3 linked regions of the Homo sapiens genome follow. The protein of the gene in region 1 interacts with the protein of each later gene in a biochemical or structural test. Each region holds a gene or a part of one and is shown on either strand. Other genes may lie near its edges.

Evidence for each region.
Region 2: the proteins of MAGOH (region 1) and NXF1 form a complex in vitro, tested with the Homo sapiens proteins (one study listed by BioGRID).
Region 3: the proteins of MAGOH (region 1) and IPO13 form a complex in vitro, tested with the Homo sapiens proteins (2 studies listed by BioGRID and IntAct).

The regions. Positions count from the first base shown.
Region 1 is NC_000001.11:53,232,019-53,235,518, forward strand, and holds part of MAGOH (protein mago nashi homolog), read right to left. Parts: intron 1,635-3,500; coding exon 1,524-1,634; intron 1-1,523. UniProt on the Homo sapiens protein: Required for pre-mRNA splicing as component of the spliceosome. Plays a redundant role with MAGOHB as core component of the exon junction complex (EJC) and in the nonsense-mediated decay (NMD) pathway.
Region 2 is NC_000011.10:62,795,441-62,798,940, reverse strand, and holds part of NXF1 (nuclear RNA export factor 1), read left to right. Parts: exon of another isoform or gene 1-365; coding exon 366-402; intron 403-1,554; coding exon 1,555-1,623; intron 1,624-1,702; coding exon 1,703-1,758; intron 1,759-2,373; coding exon 2,374-2,481; intron 2,482-2,595; coding exon 2,596-2,654; intron 2,655-2,759; coding exon 2,760-2,875; intron 2,876-2,997; coding exon 2,998-3,040; intron 3,041-3,500.
Region 3 is NC_000001.11:43,953,450-43,956,949, forward strand, and holds part of IPO13 (importin-13), read left to right. Parts: intron 1-13; exon of another isoform or gene 14-34; intron 35-2,870; coding exon 2,871-3,011; intron 3,012-3,110; coding exon 3,111-3,252; intron 3,253-3,360; coding exon 3,361-3,500. UniProt on the Homo sapiens protein: Functions in nuclear protein import as nuclear transport receptor. Serves as receptor for nuclear localization signals (NLS) in cargo substrates.

The DNA.
Region 1 (3,500 bases):
ACAGTATCCAATGGCTTATTGCTGGTACAAAGGAATATGCCCTTCCCTCTTTACAGAATTGTTGTGATGGTAGAACGAGTTAATAGAAATAAAAATTTTATAAGTGGTAAAGCAAAATACATATATATGATATTACTGAGCTCCCTTGAACATAAATTAAAGTTAACTTTAGTAAGTACTGAGGGTGGATTTTTAAAAAAAACTCTTCAAGGGTTGGTCCATCATTTTGAGATTATTAGGAATGAGTTTATATGGGTTTTCATATTAATTTAACAAATACATTATTATTGAGCTTTTACTATACATGGGTACTATTTTAGTCACTAGAGATACAGCAGTGGAAAACACTGAAAAGCAAGTAAGACAATTTTAGACAATAGCAAGTGCTACAAAGACAACACATATTGTGATAAAACTGAAAGCAAAAAGAAAAAAAAACACAAAAAGACAACACAACAGATCTTTTTCTTAATGATGGGAAGCGACTTCTTAGATTGGATGGACAGGCAAGACATCACTGAGGAAGTGACTTTTGAAGACCTCAATAATAGAGACAGTCTTGTATAAAGTTAAAGGAAGAATATTTTAGGCGGAATGTGGCAAGTGCAAAGGCCCTGAAGTAAGAACCACCTAGGTATGTCTGAGGAACAGAAATGAAGCTAGTAAGGTTTGAACACCATGACAGATTGGAAGCCCGGTAAAAGATAAGGTGGGAGTTTGAATTTTAAGTACAGTGGGAAGCCATTGGAGTTTAAATCAGTGGAATACATAAGCAAATTTACGTTTTTAAAGATCAGACCAGTAGGATGCGGCGGCTTACGCCTGTAACCACAGCACTTTGGGAGGGTAAGGCAGGCGGATCACCTGAGGTCAGGAGTTTGAGACTAGCCTGGCCAACATGGTGAAACGCCATCTCTACTACAAATACAAAAATTAGCTGGGCATGGTGGAGGACGCCTGTAATCCCAGCTATTCGGGAGGCTGAGGCAGGAGAATCGCTTGAACCCAGGAGGCAGAGGTTACAGTGAGCTGAGATTATGCCACTGCACTCCAGCCTGGGCGACAGAGCGAGACTCCAACTCAAAAAAAAAATAATAAATAAATCACACTGGCTTTCAGGATGGAAAAATGGATGGTATGGAACAAGAGGAAAAACAAGGAAATCTATTAGAAGTCTGGATTAGGATGGTAGCAGTCAAGAGTGAAAATACCTTTTCTGTTAATTCAGTTCAATATGACAGTGGCTTTTATTTTTTAGTTACCAAAATGGTGCTCAGAATGAATATATACATTAATGTATATAAATATACATGAATTTAAATACATACACTGAATTATTTGTATGATTTTCCTTTCATTAGATTGTTGAAATAATTATGTTCTATTTCTCTTTGTATCTCCACAATGCTTTGTCCATAGTAGTTAGTAAGTGAGATAGGCAACAAAAGCTTTAAGTGGAGGAGGGAGTGTGGGGGGTCTTATTTGTAAGATTTCTGCACTACAGGATAATCAATAAAACACACCTGCCGGCCCACTCGGTCAGGAGGAGGCCACAATGCATCATCCTCTTTGGTAATTTCACTGTCGTCAATTATTCTCTTCAGTTCCTCCATCACGCTTTTATGTACATAAGCCTGAACGCAAGTTAAAAAACAAAATGTATGTTGTATCCTTAAGCAGTGCTTTGACTCAGATAGTGATGGAAGATAAAAATAACTGTTCCTGCAGACTTATTTCTGGCATCTCCTTAAGTGGGAAGACATTCATGCTCAACCTCGGCATGATGCAGGTGAGGGACACGGTCAGAAGTATCCAGTAACTGCACCTCAGTCCCCTATCTAGCTGTTACTACCTCCTGGTACATCCTGTTCACATGGCCCTTCTGCCTGCCCACATACCCAACTCACAACGAAACCCAAAACAGGTCTGTGAGTGCCCCCTGCCATGGTTTGAATGTTTTTGTCTCCTCCAAAAAAATCATACTGAAATTAATCCCCAAAGCAACAGTGTTAAGAGATAGGGCCTTTAGGAGGTGATCAGGCCTTGAGGGCAGAGGCCCCAGGGATAGATTAGTGCTTTAGGAGAGAGCTTAAGGGAACTAGCTGGCCCCTTTCTTGTTCTTTCACCATATGAGGACACAGCATTCATTCCTTCTGGAGGATGCAAAAACAAGGCACAGTTGTGGAAGCAGAGACTGGGCCCTCACTAGACACTGAACTTGCCAGCGCCTTGATCTTGGACTTTCCAGCCTCCAAAATTGTGAGAAATATATTTTTACTGCTTACAAATTACCCAGTCTCAGGCATTTTGTTGCAGCAAAAAAGAGACTGCGACACCCACATGCCCTGGTTATTCTTTTTTTTTTTTTTTTTTGAAACGGAGCCTTGCTCTGTCGCCCAGGCTGGAGTGCAGTGGTGCGATCTCGGCTCATTGCGAACTCTGCCTCCTGGGTTCATGCCATTCTCCTGCCTCAGCCTCCTAAGTAGCTGGGACTACAGGCACCCGCCACCATGCCTGGCTAATTTTTTTGTATTTTCAGTACAGACAGGGCTTCACCGTATTAGCCAGGATGGTCTCGATCTCCTGACCTCGTGATCCGCCCGCCTCGGCCTCCCAAAGTGCTGGGATTACAGGTGTGAGTCACCGCGCCCGGCCAGTTATTCTTAACTAGGTAATACACTCCTGAGGAGCAAAATGTATTTTAAAAGATATGCCTGTGTAAAAAAATAGTGAGGATATTGACATGTGTGAATAAGCATAAAATCAATAGCTAAAATAACAATATGAAAATATATGCTAAGACATTTTCAAAGGTGGCAAAGTGGTTAAAAGGAAAGAGTAGCTTTGATGAAGCCTTAATGATGTAGTAGAAATCACAGAACGGAGAATACAAACTTTACTGGGGCAGGATTGGGAATTCCTGCTGTATCTCTTACTAGCAGGGGTAACTCAGAACAAGCCTCATAATTAATACCTGGGCCTTTATTTTCTTATTTGTAAGGGGGCTATAATACCCTCCCCCATCACATGGGCTTACAATCAGGGTTAAATAAGATGCCACGCCTGACATCTAACATGCATTCAATGATGTCAACTGCTTTCCCATGCTCCCTTTCCCACTCAGATGTAAATTAAATAGCTCTTCATTGTGTACCATGTACACAGGGAATATAGAGCACTTTAAATAGAACATATTTAATTTTATGACAGCACTTGGGAGTGGGAGGTAGCTTTTATTATTCCTGTTTTTACAGGTGAAGAAACAGAGATTTATCAAGTTCAGCCAGGAACTTGCCCAAGGTCACATGGGGTAGTAAGCAGCAGACTCAGGGTTCAAACCAAGGTATGTCAAAGGTTACCAGTAATTGATTCCACAATGTAAAATAAAAAAATCCCAACTAAAAGATGATTTGGGAAATAATCCAGAAGCTGTCTACAGACATGTGTCTCTCTCCCTGTTCTTTATCTTTCAATACTACTAGAAACAATAAAAACAATGC
Region 2 (3,500 bases), on another chromosome or scaffold:
AGCGGAGCCCCTGGGCTCCCACCCCATTCCCTCCTCCCGGGGCTGCACAGGTGAGTAGGTGGAAGGTAAGGGGGGCAGGGAGGGGAAAGAGGTCCTGGGCTTAAAGCCTGGGCTTGGAGTACTGCTCCTTGACACTCAGGGTCAGGCAGAGAGAAAAGAGACAGCCTTCAAGGCAGTCCATGTCTGGGTGCCCCGGGTCAGGTGGGGAGTGGGGGCCATTTTTCCCTGAGCACAGGCTGGGAGGGAGTGGAGGGATGAGCAGGATGGGATGGGCTGTCCCTCGGGTTTGGTATATTTGCTCCTAGAGCAGCCCAGGAGGCACGGTGGCTCTGAAGCATCACTCACTTCTGTCCCGTTCTTGACAGCGCCATTCGCGAACGATTTCCCAAGTTACTACGCCTGGTAAGTCCATAATTTTTTCATTCTAACAAGCACAGCATCTCTCACTCACAAGGATTCCTGGATAGGTTTCTTTTTCTTTTTCTTTTTCTTTTTTTTTTTTTTATTTGAGACGGAGTTTCACTCGTCGCCCAGGCTGGAGTGCAACAGCATGATTTCAGCTCACCGCAACCTCTGCCTCCCAGGTTCAAGCGATTCTCCTGCCTCAGCCTCCTGAGCCCAAGTAGCTGGGATTACAGGCATGTGCTACCACACCTGGCTAATTTTTGTATTTTTAGTAGAGACAGGGTTTCACCATGTTCGCCAGGCTGGCCTTGAATTCCTGACCTCAGGTGATCCACCTACCTCGGCCTCCCAAAGTGCTGGGATTACAGACGTGAGCCACTCGCACCAGGCCCTTTTTTTTTTTTTTTTTGGATGGAGTCTTGCTCTGTTACCCAGAGTGCAGTGGTGCAATCTTGACTCACTGCACCGTTTGCCTCCTGGGTTCAAGTGATTCTCCTGCCTCAGCCTCCTGAGTAGCTGGGATTACAGGCATGTGCCACAATGCCCGGCTAATTTCTTTGTGTATTTTTAGTAGAGATGGGGGTTTCATCTTGTTGGCCAGGATGGTCTTGAACTCCTGACCTCAACTAATCCATCCACCTTGGCCTCCCAGTGTGCTGGGATTACAGGTGTGAGCCACTGCGCCCAGCCTGGATCCCTGGATACTTTTCATGATGCGTTTACACTTGACTTCTGACCCTTCTCTCTTAGTTCTTCAGTCTACTTATGCACCCAGCCTTTTTCTCTCTGGTTTAAACTGTCAACTTTCTTTTTTGTTTGTTTTGTTTTTTGAGACAGGGTCTGGCTCTGTCATCCAGGCTGGAGTGCAGTGGCACAATCGTAGCTTACTGCAACCTTCGCCTGCCAGGCTCAAGTGATCCTCCCACTTCAGCCTCCCAAGTAGCTAGGACTCCAGGCACGCACCACCATGCCCAGCTAATTTTTGTATTTTTTTTGGTAGAGATGGGTTTTGCCACGTTGTCCAGCCAGGCTGGTCTCAAACTCCTGAGCTCAAGCCATCTGCCTGCCTCGGCCTCCCAAAGTTCTGGGATCACAGGTGTGAGCCACTGGGCCCAGTCTACACTGTCAACTTTTACTTCCTTTCCACAGGATGGCCATGAGCTACCCCCACCAATTGCCTTTGATGTTGAAGCCCCCACGACGTTACCGCCCTGCAAGGTAGGAAGCATGGACAGAGTAAGAACTTGTGTGTGGAGAGAATACTGCTTCCATGTTCCTAATACCTGTTTGATTTCAGGGAAGCTATTTTGGAACAGAAAACTTGAAGAGTCTGGTCTTGCACTTCCTGCAACAGTAAGTATCCCAGGGTCCCCCCTCCCCACCCCGAGGTTGAGGGGGAATGGTGGGCAGACCCAGGCACACATCAATCTTTTTGTTTTGTTTTTTGTTTTGTTTTTTTTTTTTTTTTTGGACAGTGTCTCACTGTGTCACCCAGGCTGGAGTGCAATGGTGTGATCTTGGCTCACTGCAACCTCTGCCTCCCAGGGTTCAAGTGATTCTCCTGCCTCAGCCTCCCCAGTAGCTGGGACTACAGGTGTGTGCCACTGCACCTGGCTAATTTTTGTATTTTTCGTACAGATGGGATTTCACTATGTTGGCCAGGCTGGTCTCCAACTCCTGACCTCATGATCCACCTGCCTCTTCCTCCCAAAGTGTTGGGATTAGAGGCGTGAGCCACCGCACCTAGCCATTTTTTTTGTATTTTTAGTAGAGACAGGGTTTCGCCATGTTGCCCAGGCTGGTCTTGAACTCCTGGGCTCAAGCTATTCACCCATCTCAGCCTCCCAAAGTGCTGGGATTACAGGCATGAGCTTCCATGCCCGGCCACAACTCACTCTTGGGAGCTACTGGGTCCTTGTATGGCTGTAGACCACAGAGCCCATACTTTCTTTTTTGTTTTTCCCATAGGTACTATGCAATTTACGACTCTGGAGACCGACAAGGGCTCCTGGATGCCTACCATGATGGGGCCTGCTGTTCCCTGAGCATTCCTTTCATTCCTCAGAACCCTGCCCGGTTAGTATCACATCCCAGAATCTGCCCGGGACCACTGGGTTTCCCAGCAGATACAGGGCACACCTGCTGGCAGCACTGCTCTGAACACCACGTCCATTCCTTTTATTCCCCCAGAAGCAGCTTAGCCGAGTATTTCAAGGATAGCAGAAATGTGAAGAAGCTTAAAGACCCTAGTAAGTGTGTGATACGAACAAAATATGGGAAAAGGGCATGGGAAGGAATCAGTCAGAACTCAGGAGTGTGTGGCAGCACCACTGAGCTTTCTCCTCTACCCACAGCCTTGCGGTTCCGGCTGCTGAAGCACACGCGTCTCAACGTTGTTGCCTTCCTCAATGAGTTGCCCAAAACCCAGCACGACGTCAATTCCTTCGTGGTAGACATAAGCGCCCAGACAGTAAGCTCCTGCTTGCGCCTGACAGAAGCCTAGAATTGGGGTGGGGGTGGCATTTAATAGGCAAGGGGGGGCACTCAGGCTCTGAGAAGTGTACATTGTACCTGATGCTGCTTCTCTTTCAGAGCACATTGCTGTGTTTTTCTGTCAATGGAGTCTTCAAGGAAGGTAAGAATCTTTAGAGTCCCGAGTTTGTAGCGTGGTCCCACCCCCAGCTGGAATTTTCCTCAGCACTCTTAGCTTCCCAGCTACTTTCTCTCCCATTTTCTTTTTGAGCTCCTTCTCCCATTCTGCCCCCAAGCCGTCTTGGCTTGGCCTACCTCTCCACCTGTCCTGTCTGGATGTGGGAAAAGCCTGGGGATTAGGAGGACTTTGGAGTCAGGCAGTTCTTAGTTTCCATCCTAGTTTTGGTTGTGCGGGGCTGTGGACAAGTAACATTACCTCTAAGACAGATTCTTTATTTGTAAGATGGGGTTAGTAATAGCCGTCTCATAGTGGTGCTATAGGAAGTAAACTGAAGTGACTTACAAAGTGCTTGGCCTGGGGCCTGGCATACAGATGCTATCAGTGGATTAGTAGTTATTACTTTTTTTTGAGATGGAGTCACACTCTATCACCAGGCTGGAGT
Region 3 (3,500 bases), 9.3 Mb from region 1:
GGTAGGAAATTTATGCAAGAACTTCTTCCCATGGGTGAGCTGCATCCAGCCCAGAATCCGAGCCTGGCCCTTGCTCTCCCCAGTCTAATTTCCCAGCTTTGGCTTGTGAAAGTCACCTTCAGTGACTTTGACTCCTGGGTCATCCAGGCACGCCTTCCCCAGGTGTCCTGACATTGGCCCTCCCCTTGGCTGAGCTTGCACTCAAGTCACCCTTTTCCTGCCCCTCCACAGCTGCTGCTGCTTCCTGGCTCTCTCCTTTGAAATGTATTTTTTTTTCCTGAACTATGTTTTTAATGCTGGAAAAGCTTGTCCTTGGGAGTTGGGGATGGAGGGAAAGTGAATTAGGCAGGCTCTTGGGGGCTCCCATCAGTTAGGACTGGAGATATGGGCTGAGACGTACATAAATCCTTTGGGGAAATTCTGGTTGGGCCCTGAAAGAAAAGCAGACCTGTAGCAGTTTAAGGGGCAGTTTCAACCTGGATTCTGCTTCTAAGTTGTTGTATGACCTTGAGTGATATGATACTCTGAGCTCTTTGAGGCTGTATTATCCTTGATTTGTCCTATTTTGAGGCTCAGATGAGACAAATGAAGAACATTTGCCGAGTACCCTGCCATCTGCATGAACTTTGGCAGGTGGAGGAAGGAGTCTTAGAATACAGTGGGGAGCTATGGGAGTAGAGCGCTACCTCCTGCACCCATCTCAGCTGCTGAGGAGCTTGTGGGCCATAGCCTTGGCCCTGCCCCTTCTCTTTGTGCCAGAGTCTGGCCTGAAAATGCCCATTGTCTGGTGGTGCAGCCCGTGTCAGGGTCAGGAGACTGAAGCTATCCCGGCTGTCTCCAGGCAGCACCCCCTGGGGCTGTCTCTGGGCTGGGGATATCCTGGCATGGGTGACTTTTCCTACCAGAATGGGGATGTGGAGAAGGAGGCCGATGTCCCTAGGCTGGTTGCCTCTTTTTGTCCTTCTCATCCTCCCACCAAGGATATGAGGCTACTGCCTAGCAACCTGCTTGGGGCAAGTCCAGATAGAACTCCCTCTGGGATCCTCAGTCCCCAACTCCCTAACATAGATTGCTATGGTGACACTATGATTGACAACAGAGGGGTCCCAAGCATCTGATCCCCGCTATTAGAGTGTGGCTTCCTCTGCTTAGTCTCATCTCCACAGACCAAGGTGCTGGAGAGGGATCCAGTGGGCTGAGCCAGGCTTCTCTCAGTCCCCTTTGTATACTGGGCTGTCTGTCCTTCTCCTTTAGAGATCATTGTGTTTCAGGGCTGTGATCTGGACCCTCTTATTTTTTTCTCATTCAACACTTTCTCCTTGGGCAATTCTCATCTATTCCCATAACTTCAATTACCAGCTGTTAGCTGATGACTCTCAAATCTATGGCTTTTGCTCTAACCTCTATGCTGGGCTTCAGGCTTTTATATCCAACTCTTTCTAGATGCTTCTGCCTGCATAACCTATCAGGTGTCTCTGAATCAACTTGTCTAAGACTGAGCTTATCACCTTCCACCTCCCATTAAAGGTGTTACTGTTCCCCGCTACTCACCCCACAGGTCTCAGTAAATAGCTCCACCGTCTACTTAGTTGTTTAGCCAGTGACCTGAGAGGTGTCTTTATTCTTCTCCTTCCTCATATCCAGTCAGTCATCAAGTCCTGTCTGTTTTGCCTCTTAGCTCTCTCTGAGTTCATTGTCTACTTCTCTTCCTCCCTGCTGCCACCACACTCCTCAAGAGTTGGGATTTGGTGGTAGAGGGTGGAGCGGATGGCAGGGATTGATGCTCTCATGAGCTGTTGCTGCCTTCCAAAGTCTTTTTTTTTTTTTTAAATCAGGGCTTATGAGCCTGTGTTTACTCTTCTGTATCCCACTCTTGTTCAATCACCCCTGACAGACTGTATTAGTTTCCTAGGGCTACCATAACATAGTACCACAAACTAGGTGGCTTTAAAGCCAAACAGAAATTAACTGTCTCACAATTGTGAAGGATAGAAGTCTGAAATCAAGGTGTTGGCAAGGCTGTGCTCCCTCTGAAACCTGTAGGAGACTCCGTCCTTGCCTCTTCCTAGCTCTGTGGTTTGCTGGCGGTCTTCAGTGTTCCCTGGCTTCCAGCTGGATCACTCCACTCTCTACTTTCATCCTCACGTGGCATTCTCCCTGTATGTCTCTGTCTTCACATAGATATCTTCTTATAAGGACACCAGTCATATTGGAGTTCAGGTCCATCCTACTCCAGTATAACCTCATCTGCAATTATCTTATTTCCAAATAAGATCACATTTTGAGGTACTGGGGATTAAGATTTATCAAAAAATGTATCTTTTTGTGGGGACTTAATTTGACCCATGACAGTCTGCCCTCTGGTGCCCCAAACTTCATGTTATCCCCACATGCAAAATATATTCACTTCATCTCAATCTCCCCAAAAGTTGTAACCTAGCTGGATGTGGTGGCTCCACCTGTAATCCCAGCTACTCTGGAGGCTGAGCAGGAGGCTGAGTCTCTTGAGCTCAGGAGTTCGAGACCAGCCTGGGTAACACAGCAAAACCCCATCTCAAAAAAAAAAAAAAAAAAAAAATCTTAACCCATTCCGGAATCAGCTCTCAGTCCAACTGGAGAACACAATTCAACCCATAATGCTGACCTTCTCATACGTCCTTCTCAGAGTTCTTCTGGGGGTCCCTGATCTAAGGTTCTTCCCAACATTGGGAACATCAAATCTGCCATGTAGACCCTGACCCTTTTTTTGCTTAGGATTTGATAAGGGAAGGGGAGCTTTGATGGAAGACAAGGAGATTATGCCTTTCTCTTAAAGCCAGTGTGGGGTTGAGCAGAGAGCTCTGATGGATTTTCTCACCTCATGCCTCTAGGTACGTGAACACACTCCTGAAACTCATCCCGCTGGTGCTGGGTCTGCAGGAACAACTGCGGCAGGCAGTGCAGAATGGGGACATGGAGACCTCCCATGGCATCTGTCGCATCGCTGTGGCCCTGGGCGAGAACCACTCCCGGTAAAGGGTGGAGCAGCTTGGGGTGGGATAGTAGGGCCCTCTAAGAAATGGGGTTCTGGAAGTCCCTGGAAAGGTAGAATGACCTGACTCTCTCCCCAGGGCCTTGCTGGACCAAGTAGAGCACTGGCAGAGTTTCCTGGCACTCGTCAACATGATTATGTTCTGCACAGGCATCCCTGGCCACTATCCTGTCAATGAGACCACCAGCTCCCTAACCCTCACCTTCTGGTACACACTGCAGGTGTGTCTGTGTGACCTCCAGTAGGACTGGGCTGTGGTGGAAGAAGGTGGATCATGGGCTTCTATGACTGCTGGTGAGGTGGCTAATTCTCTTCCCTGGCTCTCTCAGGATGATATTCTATCCTTTGAGGCAGAGAAGCAGGCTGTATACCAGCAGGTGTACCGGCCAGTCTACTTCCAGCTGGTGGATGTGCTTCTGCACAAGGCCCAGTTCCCTTCTGATGAGGAATATGGATTCTGGTCCTCAGA